2 separate regions of the Homo sapiens genome follow, and region 1 is linked to region 2. Evidence: fine-mapped expression QTL. Tissue or cell type: Th1/17 cells. Region 2 holds a variant in brackets; the other region holds the start of a gene. All regions are shown on one strand. Distances are between the middles of the regions.

What was found. PIP is the estimated chance that this variant, and not a neighbour inherited with it, causes the effect.
Region 1: it holds the start of SAMD12, and the variant in region 2 is fine-mapped to the expression of SAMD12 in Th1/17 cells (Schmiedel 2018, PIP 0.95).

Annotation. Positions count from the first base shown.
Region 1 is chr8:118,618,097-118,626,096 of GRCh38, reverse strand. SAMD12 (sterile alpha motif domain containing 12) reads left to right here and starts at 4,134. Exons shown (of 4, transcript NM_207506.3): 1 at 4,134-4,293. The coding sequence starts at 4,281. SAMD12-AS1 (SAMD12 antisense RNA 1) reads right to left here and starts at 5,096. Exons shown (of 5, transcript NR_038210.1): 1 at 4,911-5,096; 2 at 4,442-4,562. RefSeq lists a silencer at 3,792-3,941 and enhancers at 4,042-4,241, 4,852-5,061, 5,092-5,141.
Region 2 is chr8:118,006,343-118,014,342 of GRCh38, reverse strand. The region is part of intron 1 of EXT1 (exostosin glycosyltransferase 1); the gene reads left to right. Among named protein-coding and RNA genes, the nearest start is that of SNORD168, 89 kb to the right of the region's middle. The variant C/T (reference allele first, on the strand shown) is at 4,460.

The DNA of each region.
Region 1 (8,000 bases), 610 kb before region 2:
GTATAGAATATCACCAACTTATCAACAAACAGATAACACACAATGCGATTTAATTATGCACAATGTGATTTAAGCAAAAACAACTAGGCTTTTGCTTAAATCATGTTCCCTGAAATATGCTTACTTCCTCCAATGGAAGCCTGATATAACTTGAATGGTTGGCACTTTATTCATGACTCAAGGATTAGAGTTAGTATTTTTTATCTTAATTACAAAAAAATTATTTTTTTCCTCTCAGTTCCTCCTGTCAAAAATTTTACTTTTTAGGGTTTGAATCCTTTTGGTTAGGTTTAGAAGATCTCCCTGAACAGAATAGAAACATAATCTATTTACTTTTTGAGATTTATGAATGTTTTCTGTAGAGGCTTGTGAATATAGCAACCGAGTTAGAACAATAAATACAGTAAAGTACTTATATGTACTATTTTAAATCTTAGAATCCAGTGAAATCTGTAGCCTCATCTCAATATTTCTTTTTTTATTTAATTCACTATAAGGTAATGGGCTTTTCCTTCCCTTTCTGTGCTCTCTGATATATTCAGAAATTTTTGAATCATTCTAAATATCACAATTTCTGATATTAAAATATTTTAAACCCTTCATTTTATTAGTAATGACAATTCCTATTTGGCCAAGTGCTTATGAATTCAGATTTGTGATCACGTAATCAGTATTGAAATCTAGATGGAGTAACATCACAGAGTTCTACACTTAGGTAGACCTCAATCCCCTTGCTACAATTCATGTTTTGGAGACATGGGGCAAATTACTTAAATTCACTGAGCTTCAATTTCCTCATCTGGAAAATAGTGATATCTGACAATATTGTAGTGATTAAAGGAGATGATGTATGTCAAGATGCTTAGACAGAGCTTGGCACTTGTAATTTCCCAACAAATGCTACTTATAACAAGGATAAAAAAATAGTAGTAATAAATTATCTATTGAGTACTTACTATGTAACCACAATTATGACCAAGAATCTGGAAGATATGAAGCATAAGACTCAGTTCCAGCACTCGAAGTGCTTATATACTATAAGGAACAAACAATAGCATCATAATGAACACAGAATTTGGCTTATGAGAGGTATGGGATGAGGTCTGGACTTTGCCCCTTGCTAAAATTGGGTATATCTGTTAGGAACTGTACTTGGCTGCTGATAAAAAAGACCAAAAATAAGTCATGATTGCAGTCTGTGAAAGATACTAAAGCAGAAGCTAAGCTGTGCCCAAATTACTGAGCCACAGAAACTGAAGTAATACATGGGTATTGTTGTAAACCACTAAATATTGGGATAATTTGTTAACAGCAATCGATTAATACATGTGGCTCATCATGTTGTTGTATACAATTGTAATTCCTTCATTTGCATTACTTTATAGGAGGGTTTGGAAAGCTTTTTTTCTGCAAAGGATCAGGTAGGAAATATTTGAGGCTTTGTAGGACAAGAGGCAAAATTGAGGATATTATGTAAGTATGTCTTTATAATTTCCAGGCTTTGCAAATTATACTTTTTTTGTTTTTTTTCCAACCATTTAAAAATGTAAAAATCACACCTAGCTGGTGAGTTATAAGAAATAAATGGTGAGCCATATTTGGCTCATTGGTCTTAGTTTGTTGACCCCTGCTATATGGAATTATTTGGTTATACCACAGTTCATCTCTCCAATCTGTGTTGATAAATATTTGAGTTGTTTTCCATTTGGGAACATTAAAATAATGCAGCCACAAACATTCTTGCACATGTCTTTTGGAGAACATCTGTATGCATATTTGTTTGGTGTAAACCTAGGAGTAGAACTTCTGGGTCACAGGATAAGCATATATTCAGCTGAATATTTCAGATGGTTTTCCAAAGTGGTTTTGTGAATTTGCACACCACCAGCAATATATAAATCTTTATTGCTTCACAATCTTGCCAACGGTTGGTATTTTGTGTCTTTATCTTTCAAACATTCTAGAGATAAATGTAATTTTTTTTTAGTACTTCCCAGGTGATTCTAATGTTCAGCCAGAATTGAAAACCTCTGCGCAACTATTGTTTATCCCTTATTAGGCAGAACCACATGAAATTGTTCTATTTGTAGGTTTTAAAAATGGTCAAACATTGGCTATTTCATATGGTAGAAACTAACATCTCCTTCACATTTTATTTATACTAAAAATAAAACTCGTCTAGAATGCACATCACTGGGAAAAATATTAAAGATGAGCTAAGATGAAGTTTTAAAATTAACCACAGATTTCAATGACTTTTATATTTTTATATCACCCAGATATTTAAAAGCTTGGAACCAGACCAATGGTTTTCACCCTCAATGAAGACTGGAATCACCTGTGGGTTTTTAAAACCTGAGTGCCTCTACCCAAACCCCCATAAGCTCTGATTCTGTGAGACTAAGATAAAAGCTTAGGAATATATATTTGTAGAAGGCTGATGCACAGCCAAGGTTGAGAACCATTGATACTACCTGTCCTATGGCTTTCTTTCACATTCATTCAATCTCAGAAAATACTTAACACTTTGGTGATTTTATATACATAAAGTAGTGAAGCACCTGGATTTCAGTTCTTTCCAGAGTTTAGAATGCTTGGCTGTGTATTAGGTCGGAAAATTCTTTTTCCCATGGAAATTATGTCTCACTGAATGGGTCTCTCTCTACTGTACCTAAAAGAGAGGCTTAGGTTTGACTTGTACACAGCTCCATGGACTCAGAATTAAAGTATCAACAAGAGCATTTAATGGTTACACGCAGGTATTTTTTAAAGTACCTATACACATATTATTATTATATATTACCCAGTAGGGGAACTAAGCATGTAATTAGTGACCAGAACAACAGGTGTGCATGTATACACTGAGAAACGAAATTGTTTTGAAAAACATTTTTTTTTTTTTGCTGATGACCAAGACACACAAAAATGTCTAAGTAGTCATCATGGGAAGAATCCGATTTTTGTACTTCCTCATTTTACAGAGATTAACATTATATATGAGTGACTGGGTGGATGTGGTACCAAATACATTTGTAAACTGAAGGCCTTTAAAAGTCAATCCAGTCTTGAGCCAGATTTATTCCCGAGGCTATTCCCTTACCCCTTCCAGCCACAACTGTATCCGTATTTTCACACGCAGGAAAAAATGTTTAGAAACTTAATTTTTACGAGCTGTCGAATTGTATTGCTATCCACGTGATTCCCATTATCATGTCTGCTTATAGCATCCCCAGCACCTACAGCTAGGACATAGGTTCAGAAGTTGAAGGAACCTGATTCTCAGGCACTGTTAATTATTAGGCCCTATCACAGGCTGTCAACAGGCTCCAAGTCTAGGCAAATTGAAAGCCTCCTATCCTGGAAGCCAGACAGGCTTTCATCTGACCTCCTCCGGTGCAATCCTGGCTCCCAGACTTTGTTCCTAACAACCCCTTGGGGACGTTGCCTATTGGGGTTTAAGCCACTCCTCCTCCCCTACACCCCCATGCCAAGTATTTAGCCACCTGAACCACCCTGTAGGATAAGACAACTGTATCAACCGTCGGAATTCCCCCACAAAACCCATACATCTCAGGGTGCGAAGGAACAAGTTTCAACCTCACCCTGGGCAGCGTTCTCTGGCCCAGGTGGAGAACCACACAGGAGGACAGTGGTCCTGCTCTCCCTACTAAATGGTGGTTCAGGAGGCCAGGGGGCGGGGCGGTACCGGCGGCAGAGGCCCACGGACGAGCTCGCAGGAGCTCATCACACAGCTGACCGTCACCTGCCCACCTCACCACACCTGCTAGGTGCCAAACCCCTTGTAATGGACAGGGAAGGGCTCAATCACGGGTCCCTACTCTTAGCAGCGAACCTATCTCAGCGCACGGCCTCCTGGGAGATGTAGTCCAGACCGCTTCCCGGGAACCCCCCCCCCCTCCCCCCCCGCCCCGCCACAACCAGGCATCCCTGGTCCCCTCACAACTTCCCCAGGAGAGATTGCTCGGCCTGGCCAGCTGAAGCTGGAGTTGCTCTCCAAGTGTCGGGGCCAGGCGGCACTCCGCGGAGGAGTCGGGGTGCTCTCCCCAGTCCGAGCGAAGGGAGGGAACTACACTTCCCAGGACGCCCTGCGCGCGCCGAGCCGGGAGCCGGCTGCCTCGCTTTGCGTGACCGCGGCAGGTTGGTCCTGGAGCAGATAAGCGCAGAATATTTAGGCGAAAGCGAGAGGAAGGGGGGAGCGCGGGGCAGGAGGAGTACCTCGGCCAAGAAAATTATGCATGCGTTAGGGAAGCTCTGAGAGAATGGCTGTGGAAGGTAAGGGACGCTTGGGGCATTTTTAAGCTCCCTCTTAACCCGCGCACCCCAAGGCACACATCCCCGATGAAGCTTGGCGATCGTGGGGAGGCGAGGAAAGGGGGTGGCGGAGAGCGGGCCCCTTCCTCCTCCACCTCTTGGCACTCACCTGCGCCGCCAAGGCCAGTAGGCGCTTTAATTCAGTTGCTTTGGAGAGACGTGAAGGGTAGGTGCGTAGGACTTTGAGGTAGGAGGTGTGGAGACGAGTGTCCCTGATGCGAAACGATATCCTGGAAATGGGGGGAAAGCCGGAGGATCCGGCATGAGGTTTTGGCCCCGAGATGCCCTTTTTCCCTGCCCCCTCCCTCCGGAGCAGGCTGGGTGGCCCCGGGGCTGGGGATGCTTGGTTGGCCCCCCTCACGTGGGAGAGGTCCCCAGCCCAGGTGCGTCATCCGGAAGCTTGGACTGGGATTGGGTCGAGGGCCCTTCGTCCTATGCACCCAGCAGCGGCGGCCGCAGATGTACCCAGAGGGTAGAGGTGTCCCTACACCTGTCTCTGCTTATACAGCCAGCGCCCCGGGCTTAGCAAAGTTTACAGACATGAAATGTAATCAGCCAGGGAAAAGAAGTGCAACAACCTCTTCGATTTGGGTGAATCCTTTTCTTTGAAGATCACTTTCTTCTTACAGTCTTGAGCTTCGGCTTTGCAGTTTTGACCGTAAAGTCCTGCCTCCCTTGAACTTCCTGGTTGAAAGCAGGGTCAGGCTGTTCGTGAGGGATCCTGAGTTTTTCATTTCAGGTTATCTTACCTTGGAACACAAACTTCCTTGTTTAGGTAGTTTCTGAAGAAGAAAAAAAAACTGTGGACCGGAAGGGTTTGTGATGTCACATTAGAGGTCAAGCTGTGCCTGAATGATGAAATGATTGTGGGACGAAATGGGAGCCTACATTCACCTGCAGAATTTTGGTTTCTGAGTGCAGTCAGGTCAGAGGGCGTACTGAAGTAGGAAGAGGAGGGCTTGCCTGCCAGCTGCTTCAGGCGCCTTGCCAAGGGGAAATCAGCCTATTCCTTGTAGGCTAGAGACGAGAAGGCCACGAGGCTGGCTTGCTGCTCCCTCTCCTCCCTGCCCCAGGAGAAAGAAATTGAACTAATCTGACTCTTGCTCCCCTTATAACGACTGTCTTAACAACCTGAAGTAGCAACAACCCAGCTCCTATACTCAGCACCCATAAACTCGGGAAACTCTTGCCTTTGGGCTATCTCAGGTTCAGAGATCCACAGCCAGCCACTTCCAGCTTTCCTAACTTTATTAACAAAAATGAAATCCTCTCTCTCTCTTACAATCAAGATTTTTCTAGGTTTTCTTTTCTGTGCAAATGTACCAGTAGGGTGAGAATCTTTTTTTTTTTTTTTTTTTTTTTTTTGCATCGTTATGCTTGATAGTCAAGACTTCAGATGCCAAAGAACAAAACAAAAGCCGAGATAAAGTTCATCTTGAGCTTGAGACCAAGGATATGTTGACCTACTCCTTAAGTGTCCGTTCTATGTCACCCATCAGGTGACACTGATTATGATCTCTCGTCTTCACCACTCCTGTGTCCCCAAGACAGGGACACTCCTCTTTGTTGCTAGTCCACACTGTTCTCGAAAACAATTTCTTGTTCCCTGTAAGAAGTATAAATTTGTCTTATTTCTTGCGTGATGGGTGATTACACCAGTGAAGCCAGACTTTACAAAAACAAGAACTTAGGAAGGAAGTACATGTGGACTATGGAGAGTTTATTTTCTAGTGACTTGGTTAAAGTACCTGTCTAGTAAACAGGAGATCCTGAGTTTGAATCACAATGAGGTCTCAAAGAATGAAGGAAGTATTTTAAACTTTAACTTCAAATATGATTCCTATCTTTGGTCTTTGCAAAGATATCAGCCTGGACCAGTCCCTTCCTGGTTACTCCTACTTGGTCTTTCAAGCCTTTGGGAAAATGTCACTTCCTCTGGGAAACTGTCCCAGCCCTCCTTTTTCTTCTGCCTTCTCAGCACTCTTTCCAGTCTATGGGAAGTGCCTCCTGCTCACATTTATCTTAATACTTATCATACTTAATCTGCCTCTTACTAGACTCTAACCCCCTTGGGGGTTAGACTTGGACTTTATATTCCTAGCTCATAGCACAGTACTTTGCCCATAATAGGTACTCAATGCTCATGAATTGCATGGCAAATATATTCATGGAGGTTTTGTAACTGGTTCTATAAGGGTACATGGGGCTTTCTTGGAAGCCTAAATGTGATACAATAAGGGATTTCTGACAGATTTGAGGATGGGAGATTTTTTTTTTTTTTTTTTTGAGACAGAGTCTTGCTCTGTCGCCCAGGCTAGAGTACAGTGGCGCGGTCTCAGCTCACTGCAAGCTCCGCCTCCCAGGTTCACGCCATTCTCCTGCCTCAGCCTCCCAAGTAGCTGGGACTATAGGCACCCGCCACCATGCCTGGCTAATTTTTTTGGTATTTTTAGTAGAGACGGAGTTTCACCATGTTAGCCAGGATGGTCTCGATCTCCTGACCTCGTGATCTGCCCACCTCGAAGTGCCCTTCTCTTCAGTCTTTTGTCTTGATGCCCAAAAAATCTTTTAGAACAGTTTACCTCTACTGCTGGGTGACATTGTCCCTGGACACATTTGGGATATGTAGGAACTGCTGCTGGGGGCTGCTGTTGGTATTTTGTGCCCATGGCCACAGATAATAAATGTCCTGCAGCGCATGGCCATCCCGTATAACGAGGCCAAGCCATGGCCAAGTAATGATCAGTTTACCCAACTTATTGAGAAATGCTGCTTCAGAGAATAAGGAGTTTTGCCAGAGGAACTGGAATAGAAAATACAGTTCGAATTGCTTAACATTCTAAGCTTTAGTCTCCACATCTGGAAAAAATGGGCTCACTACTGCTTTCCTCCTGGGAACATTGTGAGGATTTTTTTTTTTTTTTTTGAGACGGAGTCTTGCTCTGTCGCCCAGGCTGGAATGCAGTGGCGCGATCTCGGCTCACTGCAAGCTCCGCCTCCCGGGTTCACGCCATTTTCCTGCCTCAGCCTCCCGAGTAGCTGGGCTACAGGTGCCTGCTACCACGCCCGGCTGATTTTTTTGTACTTTTAGTAGAGACAGAGTTTCACCATGTTAGCCAGGATGGTCTCCATCTCCTAACCTCGTGATCCGCCCGCCTCGGCCTCCCAAAGTGCTGGGATTACAGGAGTGAGCCACCGTGCCCTGCTCATTGTGAGGATTAAATAAAGGAGAGGGCTTCTAGAAGGGTGTCTGGAACCTGCATCCTAAGTAAATATCACTTGTACTCTCATCCCTTCTCTTAGGAAAAGCTATACTATTTGGCATGTGTTTTATATCCTGAATTTTCACTTATTCATGCCAGCCAGTTTTTCTAATTAGTAACAAATTAGAAGGTTTTTTACTATGTGTAACTTTTTCTTAAGTAAACTTGAATTTGTAAAAGTGTTACTAGCAAGTAGTTCACTCATTCACTTTGCTGAACCTGCAGCCGTGTGTTTAAGATGAAAAAGAGGTGCCCTTTGTTTATTGTTTTGTAACTACCCTGTGTTATGTTTTCTTCTTAGTTTATTTGCAACATCCTATTTATGTCTCCTAGTCTGCTTGTGACCCATGCTTTGCATTTATGGGCAGCTTACAGGTATGCTTTCCCGCCACAGAACAGGGTACG
Region 2 (8,000 bases):
TTTGGGTGGGATAAAGGGGATATTTTGCAGACCCAAAGAAAATAAATTCTTGAGATTTTTTCCCAGAAATCCATGGGAGGAAGGCTGAAGTATCCTTATTCTTATCAGAAAACATATTTGAATTTTATTACCAATATCTTTAACCCCATTTTGTAGATGGGAAATCTTTGAGGCTCAAAGAGCAAAGAAGGCTAACATTTGTTGAGCACTTAATAAATGAAACTGTCAATATTAGTAATTATTATCGCCATCATCATTATCTTTATTTAACCTATAGCACAGCCCTGTGAGGTGTTATCACTGCCATTTACAGATATGTAAAGCAAGATTCAGGCAGTTCAGATAACTAGCTAGGATTACACATTGAGCTTGTAGTGAGCCAGGATTCAATCGCAGTTCAACTTAACTCCAAAATCCATATTCTTTTTACTGCATCAAGGTAGATTTAAGATCTTTACATGACAAGAGTTGCCAGGTAAAATGTAGGAGGCCCAGTTAAATTTGATTGTCATATAAATAATGACTAGTATAAGTATATCCCATGAAATATTTGAACATACTTACATTTAAAAATAGTGGACCATAGTATACTAGAAAATTCGTTGTTTATCTGACATACAAGGTTAACCAGGTATCCTGTATTTTCATTTGCTAAAATCAAGCAACCCTGTATGTGGGTAGTGGGTTTTCAGATTGTATGATCGTACTTTCTGACTTCTGACTCCAAGTCCATCCATCCTTTCTATGTGCCACATTCTGTTCTGTCTCATTCTTGGGTCTCTGCTGTCCTCTTGGGGAAGAGAGTGAATGGCTTACCTACTCTAGCCCCTGTACTAAGGGGCCCAGTGGCTCATGCCTGTAATCCTAGCACTTTGGGAGGCCGAGGCGGGTGGATCATCTGAGGTCAGGAGTTTGAGACCAGCCTGGCCAACATGGTAAAACCCCGTCTCTACTAAAAATACAAAAATTAGTTGGGCGCAGTGACGGGCTCCTGTAATCTCAGCTACTTGGGAGGCTGAGGCAGGAGAATTGCTCAAACCTAGAAAATGAAGATTGCAGTGAGCTAAGATTGCGCCACTGCACTCCAGCCTGGTGACAGAGTGAGACTCTGTCTCAACAACAGCAACAACAACAACAACAAAGTAGCCAGGTGTGGTGGCCCATGCTTGTAATCCCAGCTACTAGAGAGGATGAGGTGGGAGGATCGCCTGAGCCTGGGATGTTGAGGTGCAGTGAGCTGTGATTGTGCCACTGTACTCCAGCCTGGGCAACAGAGAGAGATTCTGTCTCAAAGAAAAAAAAAACATCAGTGAACACATAGAAGTAGTTCACCTTTTCTTCACCCACATTATGCATGTTTTCATTTGCTTAATTTTAGAGACGAAGGAGTGAGAGCCAGTTAGTTGCCTTACTAACGATAGAAAGAATCAGGCCACCATTCTGCTACAACAAATTTAGGAAAAGGCTTTTATTTTGGGTATGATTACAGTCAGAGCAATAAGGGTGAGTTAGAAAATGGAACAACAGAACCTCCTGGGGTCTTTTTTGTGAGAAAAATAATAATGTTTTGGTTAATGTTAGATTGAATGTCCATTATGTGCCAGGCAATTTACATGCATCATTGTTGCAGGCTGCCCTGAGAGGTAGTTATTTTTATCAGCCCCATTTTAAAGATGTGGAAACTGATAGAGATGTGATGTGCACAGCCCCAGGTCAAACAGCAGTGAGACGCAGAGCTGGAATTTCAGCCAGGTGTCTCCACCCTGGAGGCCTGTTCTTAGTGCACTGTGCTGCCAAGGCTAAAGCCTTTTATCTGGGCCTGGTCTCTGTCCTAGAGACTGCCTTGTCGGGTGGCCTTGTGGAAATCTGCTCTTTGGCTTGGGGAGGCAGACACTGCACCAGCAGCTTGTTCCATCTAGCCTTAGGAAGCTTCACCTTCCCGGACAAAAAGGGTCAATCCAAAAGTGGCTTTTGACACCTGTGCCAAACTAGGAAGCCGCAGTGGCTTCTTCGGGAATTAGGCCTTAGCCCCGTGGAAGAAACTCTGTCCTGTGTGGTCTTCTGTGTGCAGTGGAAACTTTCAGCAAGGCTTCTAAATTCTTGATGATCACAGGATCGCTTTGCACCGAAAACTGGCATCTGGCCTGCGCTTCATTGAGGGTTCCCTACTTTTGGCGAGAGCTTTTGAAGGCCTGGGTCTGTGAGTTTTCCTTTATTAGTAAATGATAACAAAGCACTTTAAAGAAAGGAGACACGTCCGTGGTGGTAGTTCTTGCTGTGTGAAGAAAGGGAGCACTGGATCTGAGAACAAACCTCTCCCAAGTTGGTCCCTGGGGCTCCTCCTGCTGCTGCTGCTGGGAGCCCCTTCCTTGCACCAGTGGTCGGCTGCTTCCCATGTTCTCTCGCGCTCTCTGTAGGACTCTGCCTGCGATGACTGTCCTCCCTTCCTGAGCCATTTATAAAAACAGACTGTTTCCATTTCTAAGTGACTAAAGGGATTCCTTGAAGTAGTGAGATCAAAGATGCGTTTGGAATTTGTCTCTGAGTGAATACTAACGGCTTGTCATGGAGACATGTCACAGGGGAGCCCGATCTTGGGAAAACCAAATGAAAGCCTTAGGAGCCAGAGAGCGATCAGGGTGGGGAGTGACAGATGCAGGGAATTTTGGATCAGACAAACCAGAAATGATCACTTTCCACATATGCGACTTTGGGTGAGTTGTGTTTGTATCTGTGAACCTCAGTTTTCCTAATCTGAAATAGCATTAGTCATGCCGACCTCAGAGAGTCCTAGAAATTAAGTGACTATTATGTATAAAATGCCAGGCATGGTGACTCAGATCCAGTATTTACTCGATACTTTTTCCCCTCTTCATACCCTAATATGGTAATGGAAAATGGATTTTGATGGATTTTGTAGGCACATTTTAAAATTAAAAGCTATTGCAGAATTCCAGCTAGTCATTCACTGGTGTTCATAAGGTTAGTGGGTGCCTACTACGTTCCAGGCTCACTTTAAGTGGCTGGGGAATGGAGTATTATGAGACAGACACGAGTCCTGCCTCTTTGTAGCTTCCATTCTGGACCGGGAAGTCGGTAACAGACAAAGCAGCAGAGGGAGTACACTTTTAATGTCAGGCAGGGAAAAGAGATATGAGAGGATTTGGCTGTGGTAGTCTGTGAGGGCCTCTTTGAGGAGGTGTCGTTTGCATATAACACTTTCTCATGGTGAAGTGGCTGCTATGCTATGCTGACAAATAGCCATAGCTGACCAGATGAGTCCTTCCCACATTGCAAACAGGTTTTCATGTGCACATCTTGATGGCTCTCCCATTTCCTTACCCCTCTTCTTTCCTGCAAGCTCCTGTTGTCCTCTCAGTGTCATATTACTGAACAGAGTTGAATTACCCACAGAAAGCTTTCATTAATCTTGCTGTCCCATTGGGGTGTTACTGTAAACCTTGGCACCCAGAGCGTCTGCCACGGAAGTGGCTTCTAGCAAGGGGAGAAGGTGAAGCCTGAGATGGGGTAGAGTGAGGAAGAGTGAGATGTGAGCCAAGAGAGTCCTTAAACATTTCATGAGGTTCCACAGAGCCTGCGATCACACTCTTGCGGCCGTGCCGTTGCCAGTGAGAATTGATGCCTTCAGCCCAGGGTACTGGGAGCCTCCCAGCAAGGTGATGTGCCACGTAAACATGCTCCTAAAGGACCTGAATGCTAATATCCATAGGAACTGCTCTGCAGCTTCTTTTAATTAGCTGAGATGGATTTTGGGAGGTCAGCGTAACACATTCAAGTGAAATTTATGTTGGTTTTCTTTGTAAACTGTTGCAGTTGGAATTCTTCCCAGTGAGTGGTCAAAGTGCTCTTTTTTGCTTGTTTTGATGAGATTTGGGTAGAGGTGAAATAGAGGTGGGGGGTGAAAGTAGGCCAAAAAATTTGAAAATATACTTTTTTTTTTTTTTTTTTTTGAGACGGAGTCTCCCTCTGTCGCTCAGGCTGGAGTGCAGTGGCGCAATCTCAGCTCACTGCAAGCTCCGTCTCCCGGGATCACTCCATTCTCCTGCCTCAGCCTCCCGAGTAGCTGGGACTACAGGTGCCCGCCACCACGCCCGGCTAATTTTTTGTATTTTTAGTAGAGATGGGGTTTCACTGTGTTAGCCAGGATGGTCTCGAGCTCCTGACCTCGTGATCCGCCCGCCTCTGCCTCCCAAAGTGTGAAAATATACTTATATCCTGCCAACTCTAAGTCCTAACATCCATCTTGCAATAGGCAAATGAAGACACTGATGGACAAAGGTTATTCTTACTTTTTATCTGAGCTCAGGGATTTGGTTTTATTAGCTCTTTAGCCTACCTGTTAGCTCTTAGCCACTTCTTAGAACCCAATTCCCTCAGCAGTTGAAGACCTCCTTGTTTTGCACTAAATACGCATTTGGTCCAGGTGAGTATAGACTAG[C/T]GGTTCCCAACCTTTTTGGCACCAGGAACCGGTTTCGTGGAAGACAATTTTTTCACGGACCAGGAGGGTGGTGTGGGGATGGTTTCAGGATGAAACTGTTCCACCTGAGATCATCAGGCAGTAGTTAGACTCTCATAAGGAGCGTGCAACCCAGATCCCTCACGTGCACAGTTCACAATAGGGTTCACTCTCCTATGAGATTCTAATGCCACCAGTGATCTGACAGGAGGCAGAGCTCAGGTGGTAATCCTCGCTTGCCTGTCACTCGCTTCCTGCTTTGCAGCCCGGTTCCTAACAGGCCACGGACTAGGGTCGGTCTGCTGCCCAAGGGTTGGGGCCCCCTGCTGCAGACCCAGTGTTGGTATATGCAAATATTGCTTGCCCTTTTGGAGTCTGGAAATGTTGGCCACTGTCTGGTCATTCACTTGCTTTGACTCACCCTTTCTCCACGTCCTTTTCTCAACTTTCCCTCTGTGGATTAGAGCCACAAATCTATGCCCTCATTTTCCAGTCCTGAAAATGGAGACATGTGACCTGGCATAGTTTTTGTTGTTTCTTCCAGGACTGAAGTAATCTGGGAAATGTAGTTTGGCTGCCAAGAATTTGGCCTTTCCTAGACACATTGCTGGTTGATTAGAACAACAGAGGAGAATGTTAGTCTGGGAGGCGTGCTCACATTCCCAGTGTAGCTCAGGGGACCCTTTCACCAGATAGGACTCACAGACTTCTCAAGTCCCTATTGCGATGTGGCTTCTGGGACACCTTCAACCTCTGTCCCTGGTAAGCCAATGGCTGCTTCATTTCCCATGTTGGTTTCCCCCAATTTTCTGGGACCTCCACATTAATACCTACTTTCCCGTTTCCTTTTAAATCTCCTGGCAGTTCTACTGCTTGGAATGCATTCTACAGATATACTTGCGTAGATAAGAGATGACCCATTTCATAATAGCAATCACATCTAACACTTGCTGAGGATTTACCTGGTTTCTGGAACTAAGAATTTTACATATTTTTCATGTATTTCATTCTTTAAAAAACTCTGTGAGGTGGGACTGATAGTATCTTCATTTTCAGATAAGGCAATTTAAGCAGGAAGAAAGTAAAATGTAACCAAAGGTGTATTTTTTTTTAATTGCAGCTGTGGTTTTAATAAGAAAAGATTAGAAACAATGTAATCAATGTGTGTCTAATTAAATACATAATGCTTTATTGCCAATACCATAGGATACTGTGCAGCCACAGAAAAATGGTATTGAATATCTTCATATAATAGCGTGGAAATCCCTCCATAATACATGAAGTGAAAACAAGTAAGTCTGTATATAAAATGCAGGCTGGGCATGGTAGCTCAGGCCTGTAATCCCAGCACTTTTGGAGGCTGAGGCGGGTGGATCACCTAGTTCGAGACCAGCCTGGCCAACCTGCTGAAACCCTGTCTTTACTAAAAATACAAAAAGTTAGCCAGGCATGGTGGTGGGCGTCTATAATCCCAGCTACTTGGAAGGCTGAGGCAGGAGAATCGCTTGAACCAGGGAGGTGGAGGTTGCAGGGAGCTAAGATCACCTCACTGCACTCCAGCCTGGGCAACAAGAGCAAAACTCTGTCTCAAATAAAAAAACAAAAAAAAGTATAATATGCATAAATTAGCTCAACCATTGTGGAAGACAGTGTGGCCATCATCTTCAGCAAACTAACACAGTAAGAGCAAACCAAACACTGCATGTTCTCACTCACAAGTGGGAGCTGAGCAATGAGAACACATGGACACAGGGAGGGGAACGTCACACATCCCTGGGCCTGTCGGGGGTTGGGAGGTGAAGGGAGGGAGAGCATCAGATTTTTATTATTAGTTAATTTGTTTTGGTCGTCATGACTAGACAGTAATTCACATGGTTTAAAACAAGTATCAAAATATAGTGAAAACAGTCTCCCTTCCACCTGCGTGCCTCCTCTGCCAGCACTGCCCCTCTCCACCATAGATACTCACTATCATTAGTCCCTTGGGTAATGTTCTAGAAATTATAGGGCAAAATTGTCCTCTGTCAAACCCCTTACACAACTGAAGCATATTACACTTTAGTTTATTCATTTTTTTCTTTCTCTCTTCCAGCTCTGTGTCATCTCCCTGTTCCTTTCTTATCTTCCCAAACAAGATTTCTCTCATCTGGTGATGCGAATGAAACTACAGTCTTGTAGTTACCTGGGCTTGAAGCTCTAGAATCATGTTAGACCTATCTTCTTCGTCTTTTGTATTTAATTTAATTTTACTTTAAGTTCCTGGATGCATGTGTGGAACACGCAGGTTTGTTACCTAGGTAAATGTGTGCCGTGGTGGTTTTGCTGCACCTGTCAATATATCACCTAGGTATGAAGCCCCACATGCACTAACTGTTTGTTCTGATGCATTTTCCTTGAAAGGAGGCCTCTAGTTTTCACCAAGTTATCAAAAATATTCAAGATCCCCTTAGGTTGCTTAGGATGGTGGTAACTGTTCCTTGTTACCTTAGAAAGGATGCAGATATTCTTATGTAACCTGTCTGTAGGCATGTTCTCTAGGGCCATCAAATGCTTTTTTTGTTTTTTTTTTGAGATGGTGTCTCGCTGTGTCCCCCAGGTTGGAGTGCAGTGGCGCGATCTCAGCTCACTGCAAGCTCCGCCTCCTGGGTTCACGCCGTTCTCCTGCCTCAGCCTCCCGAGTAGCTGGGACTACAGGCGCCCGCCAACACGCCCAGCTAATTTTTTGTATTTTTAGTAGAAACGGGGTTTCACCGTGTTAGCCAAGATGGTCTCGATCTCCTGACCTCGTGATCCGCCTGTCTCGGCCTCCCAAAGTGCTGGGATTACAGGCGTGAGCCACCGCGCCCGGCCAGCCATCAAATGCTTTTAAAAAATTGAATTAATTGCCAACTCTAACAACTGAAGGATTTCACATAGAAATGTGGATTCAGTGCTTAGGTAGGAAAATGGAAGATTTGGCAGCCCTACGCTTGCATTTCTACATGGCCACGGTCCTCCAGAGCTAGGTAGAGGATGCCTCTTTCATGGAGAGAGTGTTCTCTTTTTTGCCTCAGGCCACTCTTACAACCTGTTGTAGTCTAAATGACACTGGCTTGGCTTGAGAAGAAGTGGGTCCTAGTCTCTTTTCTTCCTAAAGCAACTCTTTAAAAATGTGAATATTTTTTCAGATGATAAAAATGAGATTCAGACAGTTTAGATGGAATCAGCCTCAGTTGTTCACTGAAGTGGGTTAGGATAATGTGAAACTTGAACTCAGATCATCTAACTTTATTCTAATATTCTTTCCACTGAACCACAGTTGTCCCCCATTATTGTTACGATTTTTGACCTTCAAGGCATTCCTAGAGATAGGTAGAGTATTATAGGCATTTCACAGATGAGTAAGTTGAAACTTGGTTCAGCTCTGAAAAAGGAAAGTTACGTTCTAAAAGGGCAGAGCTCATATTTGGTCTCAGGTTTTTTGACTCAAACACTATACTCCTTTAGTGGTACTCAAAAACCTCAGAGATCCATATAATTCTGA